3 separate regions of the Homo sapiens genome follow, and regions 1 and 2 are each linked to region 3. The links come from fine-mapping of genetic effects on gene expression. A gene starts in region 3. Each other region holds a variant in brackets. All regions are shown on one strand. Distances are from middle to middle. Region 1 overlaps CDH1 (cadherin 1). Region 2 overlaps CDH1 (cadherin 1). Region 3 holds the start of CDH1 (cadherin 1).

Evidence for each region. PIP is the estimated chance that this variant, and not a neighbour inherited with it, causes the effect. A credible set is the group of variants that fine-mapping cannot tell apart.
Region 1: its variant is the best candidate, but not a certain one, in a credible set for the expression of CDH1 in whole blood (TOPMed, PIP 0.73).
Region 2: its variant is the best candidate, but not a certain one, in a credible set for the expression of CDH1 in lung (TOPMed, PIP 0.81).

What each region holds. Positions count from the first base shown.
Region 1 is chr16:68,770,328-68,773,086 of GRCh38, forward strand. All of the region lies in intron 2 of CDH1 (cadherin 1), which reads left to right. Among named protein-coding and RNA genes, the nearest start is that of CDH1, 34 kb to the left of the region's middle. RefSeq lists an enhancer at 1,779-2,073. The variant G/A (reference allele first, on the strand shown) is at 1,380.
Region 2 is chr16:68,804,017-68,806,775 of GRCh38, forward strand. The region is part of intron 3 of CDH1 (cadherin 1); the gene reads left to right. Among named protein-coding and RNA genes, the nearest start is that of TANGO6, 38 kb to the right of the region's middle. The variant T/A (reference allele first, on the strand shown) is at 1,179.
Region 3 is chr16:68,735,564-68,738,279 of GRCh38, forward strand. CDH1 (cadherin 1) reads left to right here and starts at 1,729. Exons shown (of 16, transcript NM_004360.5): 1 at 1,729-1,900. The coding sequence starts at 1,853. RefSeq lists an enhancer at 750-894, a cis regulatory region at 822 and a silencer at 1,775-1,844.

The DNA of each region.
Region 1 (2,759 bases), 35 kb after region 3:
AGAGGTAAGTATTTGGGTCTCTTGTGTCCCATCCCCACTCCCGGAGCCCAAAGCTCAGTCCGCAGCACATAGAGGGCCCTTAGGGGATGTTCATGGACAGCTGAATGACTCTGCCTCTGCCTTCAGGTGGGTACCAGCCAGTTGACATCCAGATTCATTCAGAGCCTGCTGTGGGCCAGGCACCAGCCTCGCACCTTCAGGGAACGTGGCAATAAATAAGGATTTCAGAGGGCAGCACATTCTAGAAGGATGTAAAGCAGTGAAACGGGGTAGGGAGTGCCTGGGGTAGTGGTGCAGGGCCCCTTTAGCTGAGGAGTGGATCAGGCAGGAGGATGTTTGTGTGGTACCTAGTGGTAGAAAGGAGGACACCATGAAGAGAGCAGTAGGAAGAGAATTCCAAGCAGAGGAACAGCAAGGGCTGAGAGCCTGAGACAGGAAGGAGCGCAGTGTGTGGAGTGGGCAAGAGGCCCAGTGTGGCAGGGCCTGGTGGGTAGATGGGCTCACAGGCGGGAGATAAGCTGGGAGGGGAAGGCAGAGGCTAGAGCTGGTCTCTAGTTTTTTAGACCTTATCTTCTGAAGGACAGATAAGTGCCTCTGCCTCCATCAGCTTCCACCGAGACGAAGTGATGCAAACCAGACCGTGCAGCCAACTCCTGCGTCAGGTTCCATAGGAATCCTTTCCCCGCCAGTGGAGGAGGCTCTCCCGTCTTTTGGAAATGATGTGCAGGAGACAGAGCTGATTCTCATTTCTTCCATGGACACGGCTAAGTGCGGGCTGGTGTGTGAGAAAGGGTTCGGGGCGCGTGGTTGGTGGAAGTTAGCTCCTGGCTGTTCTGCCTTGCAGTCCCAGGCAACTCAGACCTTCCCTGGCTGCTACTCACACCTACGCTTTCCTACGCAGGCTCTGATCTTCTTTTTCAGCCCTAGAATCCCAGAATAGCAGCTAATGTGTATTGAGCCCTTTTTTCTTTTTCTTTTTAAGACAGGGTCTCACTTTGTCACCCAAGCTGGAGTGCAGTGCAGATCACAGCTCGCTGTAGTCTCGAACTCCTAGTCTCAAGCAATCCTCCCATCTGAGCCTCCCGAGTAGCTGGGACCATAGGCACGTGCCACCATACCTGGCTAATTTAAAAAAATTTTTTGTAGCCGGGCGCGGTGGCTCACGCCTGTAATCCCAGCACTTTGGGAGGTGGAGGCGGGTGGATCACAAGGTCAAGAGATCGAGACCATCCTGGCCAACATGGTGAAACCCCGTCTCTATTAAAAATACAAAAATTAGCTGGGCGTGGTGGCGCATGCCTGTAGTCCCAGCTACTAGGGAGGCTGAGACAGGAGAATCGCTTGAACCCAGGAGGTGGAGGTTGCAGTGAGCCGAGATC[G/A]CACCACTACACTCCAGCCTGGCGACAGAGCAAGACTCCCTCTCAAAAAAAAAAAAAAATTTTTTTTTTGTAAAGAGATCTCACTATGTTGCCCAGGCTGGTCTCAAATACCTGGCCTCTTGCCTCTGCCTCCTAAAGTGCTGGGATTACAGGCGCGAGCCACCGTGCCTAGCCCATTGAGCTTTTATTCTGTGTCTGACAGTGCTAAAGGGCTTTACGTGGATTAACTTGTTGAATCATCCCATCCCCTTAGGAAATAGAGACCATCACTATTTCTGTTTTGCATATGAGGAAATCGAGGCAGGCAGGAGAGGTGAAATCACATGCCCAAGGTGGCATAGTTGATAAGTGGATCTGGGGCTTGAACTTGGGTCGTCTGACCTCTGACCTGGGGCTCTCAACCACTTAATGCTACACTGGGACCCTGACTTAAGGACTCAGGGTCTAGGCTCCTTATCTCAAAATTGGCCCCGTGTTGCCACACAACGGCCAATCGCATATGTCCTTGCCTTGCTTACCACCTAATCGGGCAGGCCTAGCAGACAGGGACACTGCCTTTCTTATCCTCTTCGTGCCATGCATGGAAGGGCGGGGCTCCATTAGAACTTGGAAGCTTCCTCTCTAATTTATGGTTTGTCCCTCTCCAACATATGGGAGAGATAGATAAGTCTCTTTAATTAGTTCACTAAGATTAATAAGCCATAGACCCATCAAGGAAAATTCAATAAATGTTCACTGGGCATCTTTTATGCACCAGGCTCTGTCTACATTCAGAGCGAGAGAACAGTCACAGCTGACATCTATGGACCACTTACAACTGGCCTGGCTCTGGGCTAACCCGCACCGTATACAGATCTTATATATACTTCACTCCATACCCTGTGATGTAGGTCTTCCTCAAAATCACCACACTATGTCAAATTGCCCATGAAAAACACCAGACTTAGGCTGGGCACGGTGGCTCAAGCCTGTAATCCCAGTACTTTGGGAGGCCGAGGCAGGTGGATCGCTTGTGCCCAGGAGTTCAGGACCAGCCTGGGCAACAGAGTGAGACCCCATCCTAACAAAAAATACAAAAAGTACAAAAAAATTACCTGGGGGTCCCAGCTACCCAGAAGGCTGAGGTGGGAGGATCGCTTGAGCCTGGGAGGTCAATGCTGCAGTGAGCCATGATTGTGTCACTGGATTCCAGCCTGGGCAACAGAGTGACACCCAGTCTCAAAAAACAAAAACAAAAACCAAAACCACCAGGCTTATGGGAAAGTGGGTTTAGGAGCTCAGCACTCAAGAACTTCATCGTAATACATTAGACAAAAAGAATTTTGCTTGTGGAAATGGGTCTCTAAAGGGTTGTGGCTTGTTATAAGTGGTGGAAGGAGA
Region 2 (2,759 bases), 68 kb after region 3:
TTATTTTTTTAATCATGTCTTTATTCTAAGCAATAAGAAGGAGAAAGGAGAAGCATAAAAATTCATTACTTAGTTATCTGTCTGCCTTTTTTTTTTTTTTTTTTTTTTTTTTTTTGAGATGGAGTCTCGCTCTGTCACCCAGGCTGGAGTGCAGTGGCGCGATCTCAGCTCACTGCAAGCTCCACCTCCCGGATTCATGCCATTCTCCTGCCTCAGCCTCCTGAGTAGCTGAGACTACAGGCATCCGCCACCACGCCTGGCTTATTTTTTGTATTTTTAGTAGAGACGGGGTTTCACCGTGTTAGCCAGGATGGTCTCGATCTCCTGACCTTGTGATCCACCTGCCTCGGCCTCCTAAAGTGCTGGGATTACAGGTGTGAGCCACTGCGCCCGGCCCTATCTGCCTTTTAAGAAACCTTTGTGGAATTCTCCACAAGCAACACTTGAGAAACACTGGCCAAAATTTAGCCTCATGACCACATCTAGCTGCACATGCAGTGTAGGGAATGTAGTCTTTCATATGAATACATTTCTGGAATGTATATTCCAGAATTACAAAATTGAGATATATATTGGAGAGATAGGTTTTTATTTTGTTTTTAATCAGAAACAAAGAGTGGATATTGGGTGGTAGGTAGCAGATTATGCCTCAGCTGGTTTGAGATTCACCTTGGTTTGTCTCTATAGTTCAAAGGATCCTTCTGGAACCAGGTGGTACTGTAATTAGATGGCAGTCTTACCTCGCTTTCATTATATATTGATTAATTTTTAACTTTTTTAAAAAACAACATATCCAGGTAACAAAATCTTTTTTTTTTTTTTTTTTTTTTTGGAGACAGAGTCTTGCTCTGTCACCCAGGCTGGAGTGCAGTGGTGGGAACACAGCTCACTGCAGCCTTGACCTCCCAGGCTCAAGCAATCCTCCTGCCTCAATCTTCCATGTAGCTGGGACCACAGGGTGCACCACCATGCCCAGCTAATTTTTTTTTTTTTTTTTTTTTTTGTAGAGATAGGGTTTCACTTTGTTGCGCAGGCTCAAAATCTCTAAATTTGTGTAAGAATAGATCTTAGTCTCTAGTCCTTTCATCTTATTTGGGTGAGTTTTCTCAGTCTGGCATCCTTCCTTTCTTTTCTTTTTACTTTTCTTTTCTTCTTCTTCCATTTCCCTTCCTTTTGTG[T/A]TTTTAGTACAGATGGGGTTTTACCATGTTGGCCAGGCTGGTCTTGAACTCCTGACCTCAAGCAGTCCACCTGCCTTGGCCTCCCAAAGTGCTGGGATTATAGGCGTGAGCCACCGTGCCCCACCTGGTATCCTATTTTTCTGAGGGATCACTTCCACGTGCAGTGTTTTCAGGCATGACTCCCTTTCATTTAACACATGAAAATGTTAGTGTGATGTTTTGCCAGCACAGTGTTCATCATTATTCATTCTCTGAAAATATTCCACAGTCCTGGTGTCAGCAAGGCATGCATGTTCCTTTCCTTTCATTGTGATAACTGGGTTTGCATTCATCCATCAGTGCCCATGTGCTCACCATGGCTGTGCAAGGTGGCCAGTTTTTGTTGTTGTTTTGTTTGTTTGTTTTTGTTTCTTTTTTGAGATGCAGTTTCACTCTTGTCACCCAGGCTAGAGTGCAATGGCACAATCTCAGCTCACTGCAACCTCCACCTCCTGGGTTCAAGCAATTCTTCTGCCTCAGCCTTCTGAGTAGCTGGGATTACAGGTGTGCACCACCACACCCAGCTAATTTTTGTATTATTAGTAGAAACAGGATTTCACCATGTTGGCCAGGCTGGTCTTGAGCTCACCTCAGGTGATCCACCCGCCTCAGCCTCCCAAAGGAAAAAGCCTGCTGGGATTACAGGCATGAGCCACCAGGCCTGGCCAAGGTGGCTGTTTTAAGGCTTAGGATACAGTGGTTTTTCTGGGATTGGTTTTTGTTTTTGTTTTTGAGACAGAGTCTCGCTCTGTTTCCCAGGTTGGAGTGCAGTGACACAATCTCGGCTCACTACAACTTCTGCCTCCCAGATTCAAGCTATTTTCTTGCCTCAGCCTCCTGAGTAGCTTGAATTACAGGCACATGCCACCATGCCTGGCTAATTTTTGTATATTTATTTATTTATTTATTTATTTATTTATTTATTTATTTATTTTTGAGACAGAATCTCTCTCTGTCATCCAGGCTGGAGTGCAGTGGCATGATCTCAGCTCACTGCAACCTCTGCCTCCCGGGTTCAAGCAATTCTCACGCCTCAGCCTCCCAAGTAGTTGGGACCCCGTGTGTGCCACCATGCCCGGCTAATTTTTGTATTTTTAGTAGAGGCAGGGTTTTGGCACGTTGGCCAAGCTGATCCCAAACTCCTGACCTCAAGTGATCTGCCTGCCTTAGCCTCCCAAAGTGCTGGGATTACAGGTGTGAGCCACCACGCCTGGCCCAGGATACAGTGATGATGGTCAGTTTTTTATTTTGTTCATGTGCTGGGGTCAAATCTCAATAAAACCATAACTCAGTGTTTTCCAACCAGTCCAACCATCATCTCCATCATTACCTTTATTGAGCACTTACTATGTTTCAGGCAGTATTCACAGTGCTTTAAATGTGCAATACCAGCATCTCATTTAATCCTTCCAAGAATTATATGAGATAGGTTCTAATATTATCCCCATTTCAGACATTAGGAAGCTGTAATACAGAGAAATTAAGTAATATCTGCCTGGGGCAAGGAGGTACTGTCATGAGGATTCAAAGCCAGGCAGTCTA
Region 3 (2,716 bases):
AAAAAAAAGAGCTGGTCAGTGTCAAATGCTTAGCACAGAGACTGGCACAGTAATCTTCAATGTCCAGCACCTATTGTTACTATTTTTTTTTTTTTTTTTTTTTTGAGACAGAGTCTTGCTCTGTCGCCCAGGCTGGAGTACAGTGGCGCGATCTCGGCTCACTGCAAGCTCCACCTCCCAGGTTCATGCCATTCTCCTGCCTCAGCCTCCCGAGTAGCTGGGACTACAGGCGCCCACCACCACGCCTGGCTAATTTTTTGTATTTTTAGTAGAGACGGGGTTTCACTGCGTTAGCCAGGATGGTCTCAATCTCCTGACCTCGTGATCTGCCCGCCTCGGCCTCCCAAAGTGCTGGGATTACAGGCGTGAGCCACCATGCCTGGCCCTATTGTTACTATTTTTACCCCTCACTTCTGTACAGAGCATTTATGGCTCAAGAAACATTTGTCATTTTAATTGTATGGGAGTCCCACAACAGCATAGGGAGACATTTCTGATCATTATTCCCATTAGGAGGGTGGAGAAACTGAGGCTTTGGGAGGTGGTCCTGACCTAGGGAATCAATTTGCTGACTCACTAACCCATGAAGCTCTACAGTTAAAAAAGACTAGATTAAAAAATGAGAACTCAGTAAAGGGGCTGAGGCAGGAGGATCGCCTGAGTTCAGAAATTTGAGATCAGCCTCGGCAACATAGTGAGATCCCCTCTCTAGAAAAATTTTTTAAAAAATTAGGCCGCTCGAGGCAGAGTGCAGTGGCTCACGCCTGTAATCCAACACTTCAGGAGGCTGAAGAGGGTGGATCACCTGAGGTCAGGAGTTCCAGACCAGCCTGGCCAACATGGTGAAACCCCGTCTGTACTAAAAATACAAAATTAGCCGGTGTGGTGGCACACGCCTGTAGTCCCAGCTACTCAATAGGCTGAGACAGGAGAGTCTCTTGAACCCGGCAGGCGGAGGTTGCAGTGAGCCGAGATCGTGCCACTGCACTCCAGCCTGGGCAAGACAGAGCGAGACTCCGTCTCAAAAAATACAAACAAAACAAACAAACAAAAAATTAGGCTGCTAGCTCAGTGGCTCATGGCTCACACCTGAAATCCTAGCACTTTGGGAGGCCAAGGCAGGAGGATCGCTTCAGCCCAGGAGTTCGAGACCAGGCTGGGCAATACAGGGAGACACAGCGCCCCCACTGCCCCTGTCCGCCCCGACTTGTCTCTCTACAAAAAGGCAAAAGAAAAAAAAATTAGCCTGGCGTGGTGGTGTGCACCTGTACTCCCAGCTACTAGAGAGGCTGGGGCCAGAGGACCGCTTGAGCCCAGGAGTTCGAGGCTGCAGTGAGCTGTGATCGCACCACTGCACTCCAGCTTGGGTGAAAGAGTGAGACCCCATCTCCAAAACGAACAAACAAAAAATCCCAAAAAACAAAAGAACTCAGCCAAGTGTAAAAGCCCTTTCTGATCCCAGGTCTTAGTGAGCCACCGGCGGGGCTGGGATTCGAACCCAGTGGAATCAGAACCGTGCAGGTCCCATAACCCACCTAGACCCTAGCAACTCCAGGCTAGAGGGTCACCGCGTCTATGCGAGGCCGGGTGGGCGGGCCGTCAGCTCCGCCCTGGGGAGGGGTCCGCGCTGCTGATTGGCTGTGGCCGGCAGGTGAACCCTCAGCCAATCAGCGGTACGGGGGGCGGTGCCTCCGGGGCTCACCTGGCTGCAGCCACGCACCCCCTCTCAGTGGCGTCGGAACTGCAAAGCACCTGTGAGCTTGCGGAAGTCAGTTCAGACTCCAGCCCGCTCCAGCCCGGCCCGACCCGACCGCACCCGGCGCCTGCCCTCGCTCGGCGTCCCCGGCCAGCCATGGGCCCTTGGAGCCGCAGCCTCTCGGCGCTGCTGCTGCTGCTGCAGGTACCCCGGATCCCCTGACTTGCGAGGGACGCATTCGGGCCGCAAGCTCCGCGCCCCAGCCCTGCGCCCCTTCCTCTCCCGTCGTCACCGCTTCCCTTCTTCCAAGAAAGTTCGGGTCCTGAGGAGCGGAGCGGCCTGGAAGCCTCGCGCGCTCCGGACCCCCCAGTGATGGGAGTGGGGGGTGGGTGGTGAGGGGCGAGCGCGGCTTTCCTGCCCCCTCCAGCGCAGACCGAGGCGGGGGCGTCTGGCCGCGGAGTCCGCGGGGTGGGCTCGCGCGGGCGGTGGGGGCGTGAAGCGGGGTGTAGGGGGTGGGGTGTGGAGAAGGGGTGCCCTGGTGCAAGTCGAGGGGGAGCCAGGAGTCGTGGGGACGATCTTCGAGGGAAGGAGAGGGGCATCCGTAGAAATAAAGGCACCTGCCATGCCAAGAAAGGTCGTAAATAGGAGTGAGGGTCCCGGGGATAAGAAAGTGAGGTCGGAGGAGGTGGGAGCGCCCCTCGCTCTGAGGAGTGGTGCATTCCCGGTCTAAGGAAAGTGGGGTACTGGAGAATAAAGACATCTCCAATAAAATGAGAAAGGAGACTGAAAGGGAACGGTGGGCTAGGTCTTGAGGGGGTGACTCGGCGGCCCCCTCCCGGGAGTTCCTGGGGGCTCGGCGGCCGTAGGTTTCGGGGTGGGGGAGGGTGACGTCGCTGCCCGCCCGTCCCGGGGCTGCGGGCTGGGGTCCTCCCCCAATCCCGACGCCGGGAGCGAGGGAGGGGCGGCGCTGTTGGTTTCGGTGAGCAGGAGGGAACCCTCCGAGTCACCCGGTTCCATCTA